3 linked regions of the Homo sapiens genome follow. The protein of the gene in region 3 interacts with the protein of the main gene of each other region in a biochemical or structural test. Each region holds a gene or a part of one and is shown on either strand. Other genes may lie near its edges.

Region 1 (3,106 bases), on a different chromosome or scaffold from region 3:
TACTCAAAGTAAAACTCGAGACACTATGCCACGCACCAATATTTTTGCAAACGTGTGTTTAACGTAGTACAATGAGTAAGACATTTGACTCAGCCATACACTCAAGGCAAAGAATTAAATGCAGGTCAGATGGGCCAAACGCTTTGAAACAGGATTTTTAGCCTTTAAATTATGAAATTAAATGGATGTTAGAGACAGAAAGTTTCAAATTCCTTTTTCATGAGGGGTAAATAGCACGTGTGTACAGTAACAGAAATCTTGGCTTTAGTATATGAGACCAGCTTTATGTGATGAGGGGCTTACTGAGTATAAACACGGAATCTGGACACAGCATTAATTCAAGTATTTGGAACTATCTTCTAGTCAAATGCAGTGATTTGAATCCAGGATTGCAAACCCTTACAGGTTATGAGTCACTACAGCACTTCACCCTTTATGATACAAATGGTTTGAACTTCCACAGTCCATGAGCAAACCTGGAGAACCGAAGTTTATATCACCAAGGTGGCATAACTAACTCTTTAGTCATTTGAACATCTGACTGTGGAAAGAAGCCCCCAACTCCATAAACAAGTCATTCTCAAAGCTTGCTGCAGATTAGAATCAACTAAGAAGCTTCCAAAGATAGACACATTTAATTGGTCTGGGATAGGGTCCTGGCATCAGTATTTTCAAAAATCTCCCTAGATGATTCTAATCTGCAGCCAGGGTACTGCACTAGCATGTGAAACTAAGAACTTAGCTGAAAATTCACTTACTGCCTATTGAAGTCTTAGGCAAGTGTTTTATCACTCTTTCTTGATTGGCAGGGAATAAGTACTGGGCTGTTCAGGGACAGAATGTGCTACACGGATACCCCAAGGACATCTACAGCTCCTTTGGCTTCCCTAGAACTGTGAAGCATATCGATGCTGCTCTTTCTGAGGAAAACACTGGAAAAACCTACTTCTTTGTTGCTAACAAATACTGGAGGTAAGTTTAAGTGCAGAGAATGTTAGGGCCTCAGTTCTTTCTACATAAAAAGTTCTAGAATAGCCCATTTCAAAGTGAGTCTCAAACTGCCTTGGCCGGCATCCTTTCCTTCAGATGGCTGGTGCCAATCTATCATCTATTTAGTCTATTGACCAATAATCATCACACAATGCCTGCACTGGGAATCCAGAGAATGTAGGGGGATGAATTTTAAAAGGATGTAGAATTGAGGACATTCATCTTAACGGAGCTACTTTGGCCAAAAGTTACTTATCTTCCATAGTATGTTACCTCGATAGGACATAGCGTAGAACCTACTGGAGAATTCGATGCTGGATTTCAGAGGGGCCTTAAAGGCCTTTTAGTTCACCCAACATTCCACCTTATCCCATCCACTCCCCATTTCACAAATGATCTATAAAATGAAATATTCTGGTTAAATTCCTCATTGTGTATTTTCTGTAATGATTTTCAGAGTGCACATGTTTAGCAAAAGGTCTGACACTCTTAACTCTTTTCTGACCAGGTATGATGAATATAAACGATCTATGGATCCAGGTTATCCCAAAATGATAGCACATGACTTTCCTGGAATTGGCCACAAAGTTGATGCAGTTTTCATGAAAGATGGTAAGTGAATATACATGTATTTCCTCCATTTCATTGCCGTAGCAATAACATCATTATTGTTAGTTGGAACAGCAAATGCCAAAAATATCTGTGCTCACAGATGAATTGGTTTCTCAAGAATTCAAGTTAAACCTAGAAACTACTTGTATAATGTAGTAAGTCTCTTTTGTTTTGTTTCTAGGATTTTTCTATTTCTTTCATGGAACAAGACAATACAAATTTGATCCTAAAACGAAGAGAATTTTGACTCTCCAGAAAGCTAATAGCTGGTTCAACTGCAGGAAAAATTGAACATTACTAATTTGAATGGAAAACACATGGTGTGAGTCCAAAGAAGGTGTTTTCCTGAAGAACTGTCTATTTTCTCAGTCATTTTTAACCTCTAGAGTCACTGATACACAGAATATAATCTTATTTATACCTCAGTTTGCATATTTTTTTACTATTTAGAATGTAGCCCTTTTTGTACTGATATAATTTAGTTCCACAAATGGTGGGTACAAAAAGTCAAGTTTGTGGCTTATGGATTCATATAGGCCAGAGTTGCAAAGATCTTTTCCAGAGTATGCAACTCTGACGTTGATCCCAGAGAGCAGCTTCAGTGACAAACATATCCTTTCAAGACAGAAAGAGACAGGAGACATGAGTCTTTGCCGGAGGAAAAGCAGCTCAAGAACACATGTGCAGTCACTGGTGTCACCCTGGATAGGCAAGGGATAACTCTTCTAACACAAAATAAGTGTTTTATGTTTGGAATAAAGTCAACCTTGTTTCTACTGTTTTATACACTTTCTATATTTATTATTGTTACTTTCTGATGACAACGCCACCCTTACAGAGACTGCTTTTCAAATTTGAAATGGGAAGTAGACAATATAAAAAATGTTCATGTGGGAAATGAGGATATACAAAAAACTCAACTATTCTCTATTCACATGGAATTTATACCATATAAACTGGGGTGGGGGAGGGGAATCCATTTCCCTTGCCCCATTTATGGATTCCAAAAGTGGTTTTAGGTAAAATCAGTGACATCATGGTAGAGCGTTCTAGGTGTATGTCATTTTGTCTCTTCTGAACATATGGGAGGGTTCCATTTTCCCACAGTCCAACTCCTTGCAGAGTTGGGTGGTGGGCAGTGGGGCATCTGACTACTTCTAGCCAGAGGGTTGAGTGAAGAAGTGACAAATATCATTTTCAGACTGGAACATTTAATTGCTGGTGGAAATTTCTCTAGTAGTCTACTCCTTCTGTCCTGTGGTAGAAGTACATCATGAGAGAGTTGCCACAAGACAGAACAAGCTGAATTGCTGGAGGTAAATGCTCCAAATAGTTACACAAACCTCAGTAGACTTTGCTTAAGCAGGAAATCAAATTTTAGGCTGGCCATGGTGGCTCACACCTATAATCCTAGCATTTTGGGTGGCTGAGACAGGAGGATTGCTTGAGACTAGGAGTTTGAGACCAGCCTGGGCAACATAGTAAGGCTCTACGTCTACAAAAA
Region 2 (3,735 bases), on a different chromosome or scaffold from region 3:
ATACTATATTAGTATCCTCATTTTATGAATAGGAAACTGAGGTTTAAAGACATGTATTAACTTGTTCAGAACCCACATCTGTCCTCCACCCTGAGACCTGCACTCCCTCCTTATCCTCTCCAGTGGTAGCACACCATGATGCAACTCACTTCAAAACAGAACAACTCATCAGTTGATGGACTACTGTTCTAAATAACATTTAACTCTTCATACATCCTCTCATTTTGAAGGATTCGAAACTATACCCCACAGCTGTCAGAGGCTGAGGTAGAAAGAGCTATCAAGGATGCCTTTGAACTCTGGAGTGTTGCATCACCTCTCATCTTCACCAGGATCTCACAGGGAGAGGCAGATATCAACATTGCTTTTTACCAAAGAGGTAGGTACAAAGCAGTCATGCTCAGTTTTGCTTTCTTTGGCTAACCTGAAACTTGGCAAGGATCTAATACAAATGTTCTTATTTCAGATCACGGTGACAATTCTCCATTTGATGGACCCAATGGAATCCTTGCTCATGCCTTTCAGCCAGGCCAAGGTATTGGAGGAGATGCTCATTTTGATGCCGAAGAAACATGGACCAACACCTCCGCAAGTAAGTTAATCAAGATTATGTCCACACACAGCTTCTGAATTAACCTTTTACAGATTAGAATACACACACACACACACACACAATAAAGGTAACATAATATTTCAAACTCACAAAAAGTGATCATTTGAAATTTTTGCTACCTCATGATACTAAGTCAATTTGGGATTTTTTTAAAAAAAGAAAGAAAAAGACATGCTGAATCTGATTACTGACCTTACTTCTTAGGTCAGAGATCAGAAAATACAGACTACGGCCAAATCCTGCCTGACCCCTGTCTGTATAAATAAAGTTTTATTGAAACAGGGCCACATTTATTTGTTTCTATATCATAAATGGCTGCTTTCACTCTACAATGGCAAGCTGAGTAATTGCAACATGGATCATTTGGCTTACAAAGCCTAAAATATTTGCTATCTGGTTCTTTACAGATACTGCTTTAGAATATCTTTATTTTAATATTCCCAAATTTAGTGATGTTTGAAAAGAGCCTATTTTTCCATTTTTGGAAATTCATTTAGAAATTATAATTTCTATAATTAGAAATTAGCCTATTTTTCCATTTTTTGGAAATTCATTTAGAAATTATAATTTCTATAATTAGAAATTAGTCTATTGAGAAAAGAACAGACACCTTCCCTCTCATCTAGTTAGTTCATCTCCTTGGAGCTCTTCTTCAGTGGTATGCTTCTGTACAGCAAGCCACTCCTTTCAGGAGAAGGCTCCTATTAAGAAGGACTGGGCTGCTTGAAGGGAAGAAATGAGGCTGAGGACAGGTATACCCAGACCATGTGGTACTTCACAAAATATGGGGTAACAATATGCCAGAGAGCACTTTTAGAAAATAATCAGAAAGGCACCTTTTACCTTTGCTTGGCACCTGTTCCTCCTGCCATTTTCTCAACATGGGTATGTTACGAGGGTCTATTCTACCTAAGTCCATATGCTAGGAGCTGTGTGTAGCCAAAGATAGGTAATAACCCTCAGCTCCTCTCCATTCCCTGTTGCCCTCCTCACTAGTTCGGATGATCATTACCTCTTACCTGAACGAATGATCTAGATTCCTAACTGGACTCTCCATCTCCAGTATGTGCTCCCTCTAATTTTTCCTACCATTGCAGCAGGGTTTGTTTTTGGAAGCCCATCTTGGATCACATCACTCTCATGCTTAAAAGTTTCAATGTTTACACATTCTGCACCAAATAAGGTCCAAATACTTCCACTTGGTATTGAAGGCTCTTGGTGCTTGTTCATCCTTGTCTTTCTTGGCTTGTCTTCTTATTTCACGTATTCCATTCACATCGGGCTAACACCCACATTGTACATTCACTGTTTCTAGGTCACACCCTATGCTTTTCATCTTCCTCACATTTGCTTGAATTGCTTCCTCTCCCTGAAATACTCTTCCCATGCCCCACGCACCACCTTTTAAAATCTCTCTCATCTTGCCATGCTATGTATGTCAAAGGCCACCTTCTGTCTTGCCTTGTCCTGGAAATGAGAACTTCCTCTGCAGAATTCTGACAGCTTTTGTATCTCCTTCTCTGTCATCACTCACTGTGTGCTTTCAAGTTGTTTGCACACATCTCTCCTCTTCTAGACTATGCACTCCCTGTAGAGCAGAGAACCACAACAAATTGCCCACAGTTCCTTTCACGGTATTCCAAGCATTCAAAGATATTTTTCTGAAATGCACTCATGAATGCATAATTAAAAGGATGTGATGATAAGAAACAATTCTTAGAGCATGGGTAGAATTTTAGCAGGCTAATTATCAACAGGAAGTTGAACATTGCAGTAAGAGCATGGATCTTGCCATTATACCTGGGTTTGACCCCAATCTGTCACTTACTAGTTGAGGGACCAAGTACCAGCTATTCAAAATCTATGGGCATCAGTCACTTTACTATAAAAATATTGTTAATAAAACTTCAGAAAAATGTTATGAGGATTGCATAACATTAGATTGCCTAGTATGTTGTAGGTACTCTACAATTATGGCTTTTTTTAAAAGTAGGCATATACAAAAATGCATCAGTGTGTTTGTGAGGCAGCATGTAGACTGGCTGGACTGAAGGATTCATGTTAAAAGGCAAGCACTCAAATATCTGCTGGAGCCAAGTGGAGGAGGTCTTGAAGGCCAGGCAAAAGAGGTTGGGCTTTATTTGATAGGAAGTGAGATCCTGGGAAGGTTTTAAGTCTCCAGTTGTGAACGGCACTATGCTCATGGAAGTTAAAACATGGAGAAAGAGAGCAATAAGGGTAGGATTTGTCTCTCTCCAGTAGAGAATTCCTAGAGCATCTTAGAAAGCTCAGAAACAGAGAAGAGCTGGTGCTAAGCTGTGGGTGATGAGGGAGCCAACATGAGCCAGCCCTCCATCTGAGGCTGCTCCACTGCTGGGCTGGCTTCTCTTCTAACTACTTGCTCACAGGGACTCTACTCGTGAGGCTGAGTGTCTGGGACAGTGGAGATGGTGATTGTGGGAATGCAAGAGAAGAGGGGTTCCCAAAGTCATGACGGCTCTGCCATTACTTCTCCAAGTCTCAGATGCACATTTGTAAAATGTGAGAATTGGAATAAATGCAGCTTTTCTGGGTTCTAAGAGTTTATAAGAAGTTCATACTCACCTAGTCGCCATCTATGACCACTATCTTGATTCTTCTCAATGTCCACTTTCTCAGGTATCTGAAAGAAAGATGAAAAAGACAGCCATGGGAAGGGCTATTTCCCTGAGCAGTTTTGACTTGGAGGTTGCATTCCTTGAGATCATGTTTCTGCCACCCTGGGATCCACACTGAGCTGTTTACCACCCGTGTTTGCATTTCAGATTACAACTTGTTTCTTGTTGCTGCTCATGAATTTGGCCATTCTTTGGGGCTCGCTCACTCCTCTGACCCTGGTGCCTTGATGTATCCCAACTATGCTTTCAGGGAAACCAGCAACTACTCACTCCCTCAAGATGACATCGATGGCATTCAGGCCATCTATGGTAAGGTCTTCTCAAGAGAGTCATAGTACATGGTAGGACCTGGGAATAGGCGAACACTCCCAGAATCTGAATATCTCTTCCTTTGCACTTCTGCAGTTTCCATAAAACTGAACTCTGAATTTCCCCAGTAATAAAGCATTAACAAAGAAGGTGTGA
Region 3 (3,500 bases):
CAGGTGGTCCTTGCGCCACACTGGAAGAACTTGACCCCAGCCATATTGTTGAGGCAACACTTGAGAAGGCTCTGTGAGCCATCATTAGCCCCGGAGAACATGGTCATTTGTCTCCCTCCTACTCTGTCAAAACTCTAGTCTGTTTTGGGTGTGTGAGGCGGAAGAGGGACCAAAGAAGGCAGGTTCCACCTTTCCAGGGCGCAGCTCCTTAGTGCAAGCATCTCTAGCTCCATAGAGTTGGGGGTGGAATTTACTGGAAAAGCAAAGGTTGGGAGAGGGACAGGAAAGGTGCCCTGCACCCCTGAGCTACTGAGAAAGGACAGGGCAGAGTCATGTCATCCATCACCCTAGCATCAACCTGGGCTTGCCTCTTCTGCCCCCAACTTCTTTCAATCAAGACATCCTTAGGATAAGGGATCCGACTTACCTAGGAGCGTCCTAGGGGCCTCTGCTGGGTCTTCTGGAGTGGAGCTTCCACCTCCTCCGTCCTCCATGATGGGGATGGAGTAGATGGCCCCACGGGATTCACTCTCTGTGGCTTCCTGAGGCAGCTGCAGTTCCTCCAGGGTCTCTGTCACTGTGACGATAGCCTCTAGTCCATCAGAGGCTGGGTTGGAGGCTGGGTTGGAGGCCTCAGGGATGGCAGAAGGCTGGGCCGAGTCTGTGGCAGGAGGAAAGTATTGATGCGAGCCTGAATAGGTAGCTCTGCCCTCCCAGGTCACAGCTTGCACCATGGAATTCTCTCAATTCTCTCACATCTTCCCTGTGGAGCACCTACTGGGGCCCAGGGAGCATCCCAGAACTTCGTCACTCATTTCTCAAGCATTCATCAAGTGCCTACAGTGTGTCATGCCAAGCATTCCCCTGGGCACTGAGGATACAGTGCAGAACAAAATAGCAAACCTCCTACCCTCAAGGGAAATTATATTCTAGAACAGATGACAAACAAACATATATTATAATCTTACAAGATAAAGAACACTTGAGCAGAGTTAGAAGATGGAGTGATGGAAAATACTACTTTGGAGTGGTCAGGAAAGGCTCAGGTGAGAGATATTCCCTAGGGGGAGGGGCTGGAGCCAGCAGGATGGATGAAATAGCTTTACCACCTTGTGATCTTGGGCTTGGGGCAAGGTGTGAGGTGTCCCAGGTATCCCCAAATTCTTTTATTTTTTAGACAGAGTCTCCTTCTGTCACCCAGGCTGGAGTGCAGTGGCACGATCCCAGCTCATTGCAACCTTCGCCTCCTGGATTCAAGCGGTTCTCCCGTCTCAGCCTCCCAAGTAGCTGGGACTACAGGCATGTGCCACCGTAACTGGCTAATTTTTGTATTTTTAGTAGAGACAGGGTTTCCCCGTGTTTGCCAGGCTGATCTCGAACTCCTGGCCTCAAGTGGTCTTGGCCTCCCAAAGTGCTGGGATTACAGGCATGAGCCACTGCACCGAGCCTCCAAAATTCTTGAAATAGAAGGGGAGAGGCTGTCATCCCCTCAGGATAGCTGGAGGGCAGAGTGCAGGAATAACTTCAGGCATCACCTGAGGATCTCAGTGGTGGGGCAAGTAGGCAAGGGAAAAGGCCACCTCCTTCTGGGACCTACTCCTTTCAAATAACCAGAAGTTTAGAATGGTTTACTTGTCCTCTGGGGAAGGGAGCCAAGAGCAGAAAACCAATGAAGTGAAGGTGGAATTGGGCTAAGAAAAGTCCTGAGGGCTGTCTGTGCTCAGCCAGGCAAGACAGGACAGTGAGTCCCTGCCCTCATCACCTGCTCCAGTGAGCCTTACTCCTCACCAGACCTTGTGTCCTTGCTGCCTGTGTCCTCCACCAATCGTAGTCCCAACTGTAGTCATATTCCCCCTCCCCTGCCCCTCCTCATGATCCAGGCCATTTCTTTCCAAAACAGTGCTTGGCTTGGCACACAATCATAGCCAGCACACAGAAGTTTTAGCTATTACTATTATTATTATTACTACTACTACTACTACTACTACTACCCCTGTTCCAGGAGGTCTTTTCAGATGGACCTGTCTTCCTATGGACTTTTACTTCCCCACCCCTCCCCAACCCCAGCCAAATATGTCCACAGATCTGTCCAAATGGAAGTAATGCTTTTCTCTCAGTCTCTCCTCATCCTGGGAGTGAGGCATCTTGTCTTCCCTTTGCTGGGGGTTCCCATGGCAAAAGCTGTGTCTTCATCCTTCAGACCAAGTGCTCCCTGAGGTTCAAGGCTGTGTCTGCTCCTTCCATTTCTGCTTCCAGCTCTTGTAACAGTATTTCAGGCTTAAAACTGGGGAAGGACCGAGACACCGCATGGCAATGCCTCTCTTATTGTCGGTCACCCTTGGCCTGGGCCTTTTGCATCTGAGAGTCCCAGAAACTGCCTCCCGCTCCAGCTCCCAACATAAGATATGGGCAGGTTTGGGTGCAGTGGCTCACACCTATAAATCCCAGCACTTCGGGAGTCCAAGATAGGTAGATTGCTTGAGCTCAGGAGTTCAAGACCAGCCTGGGCATGTGGTGAAACCCCATCTCTACAAAAATTACAAAAATTTGCTAGACATGGTGGCATAAGCCTGTGGTCCCACCTACTCCGGAGGTTGAAGTGGAAGGATCCCCTGAGCCCAGGGAGGTTGAGGCTACAATGAACCATGATCACACCACTGCACTCCAGCCTGGGGGACGGAGTGAGACCCTGTCTCAAAAAAAGAAACAAGCCATAAGATGTGGGCAGAAAGCTATCTCTATTCCCAACTGTACTTAAGGTCTTGCTCCCTTTTGGGGGAATTGTATCCATCCACCAGTATTTGGTAGTTAAAGATCTGACACCTTCTTAAGCTGTAGTTTCTGGAAATCCTCCAGAGGGCTCCTGAGGGCATTTGGTTGTTGACTGGAAGAACTTGGGCAGATTACTCATTGAATTCACAGAATGTTGGTCGTCTTTGCTCTGCCAATAAGCTGACAGGAGATGGGAGCTTATTCAGCAGCCCAGCTGGAGCAAACAAGGCATGGACTACTGGTGGGAAGGCAGATAAGGAGAGGCCAAAAGGTGACTACTCCTTGGGCCAAACAGCTGACAGACACCACACCAGAGGGCATGCCCAGAATTAGAACCCTAGATGACAAGCTGGACTTCACCCACGACCACTTCAGGCAAATGGCAAAGCCCTGAGCTAAACTGATCAGACTGGGGTAGGACTTTTAGGACTCAACTCTGCCTTTCTGAGATTGGTCTCAGCTTCTGCAGGGAGGTGGGCTCACCTCGGAAGCAGTAGACGTTGAAGCGGCTGTGCTTATTGGGGAAGCCAGTCTGGTTGGGGAAGAGGAAGAGAGTCTTGACACCAGGCAAGCCCCCACCACAGCGCTGGCTGGGTGTGACGATGGGGTAGCGCACACTGCCATCAGCTAGCCACCCTGGGCTGCAGTGGTCCAGGCCACCATCCCAGGCTGCATACAGTTGGCCCGTGGTGGCAATCTCTGCACCCCGCTCCTGGCAGTACGCCCGT

Evidence for each region.
Region 1: of the proteins of BCAN (region 3) and MMP1, one has a biochemical effect on the other in vitro, tested with the Homo sapiens proteins (one study listed by BioGRID).
Region 2: of the proteins of BCAN (region 3) and MMP8, one has a biochemical effect on the other in vitro, tested with the Homo sapiens proteins (one study listed by BioGRID).

Annotation. Positions count from the first base shown.
Region 1 is NC_000011.10:102,789,199-102,792,304, reverse strand, and holds the end of MMP1 (interstitial collagenase isoform 1 preproprotein), read left to right. Parts: intron 1-809; coding exon 810-972; intron 973-1,498; coding exon 1,499-1,602; intron 1,603-1,783; coding exon 1,784-1,893; 3' UTR 1,894-2,386; downstream 2,387-3,106. UniProt on the Homo sapiens protein: Cleaves collagens of types I, II, and III at one site in the helical domain. Also cleaves collagens of types VII and X.
Region 2 is NC_000011.10:102,718,258-102,721,992, reverse strand, and holds part of MMP8 (neutrophil collagenase isoform 1 preproprotein), read left to right. Parts: intron 1-230; coding exon 231-379; intron 380-466; coding exon 467-592; intron 593-3,417; coding exon 3,418-3,579; intron 3,580-3,735. UniProt on the Homo sapiens protein: Can degrade fibrillar type I, II, and III collagens.
Region 3 is NC_000001.11:156,648,617-156,652,116, reverse strand, and holds part of BCAN (brevican core protein isoform 1 precursor), read right to left. Parts: coding exon 3,256-3,500; intron 662-3,255; coding exon 428-661; intron 1-427. UniProt on the Homo sapiens protein: May play a role in the terminally differentiating and the adult nervous system during postnatal development. Could stabilize interactions between hyaluronan (HA) and brain proteoglycans.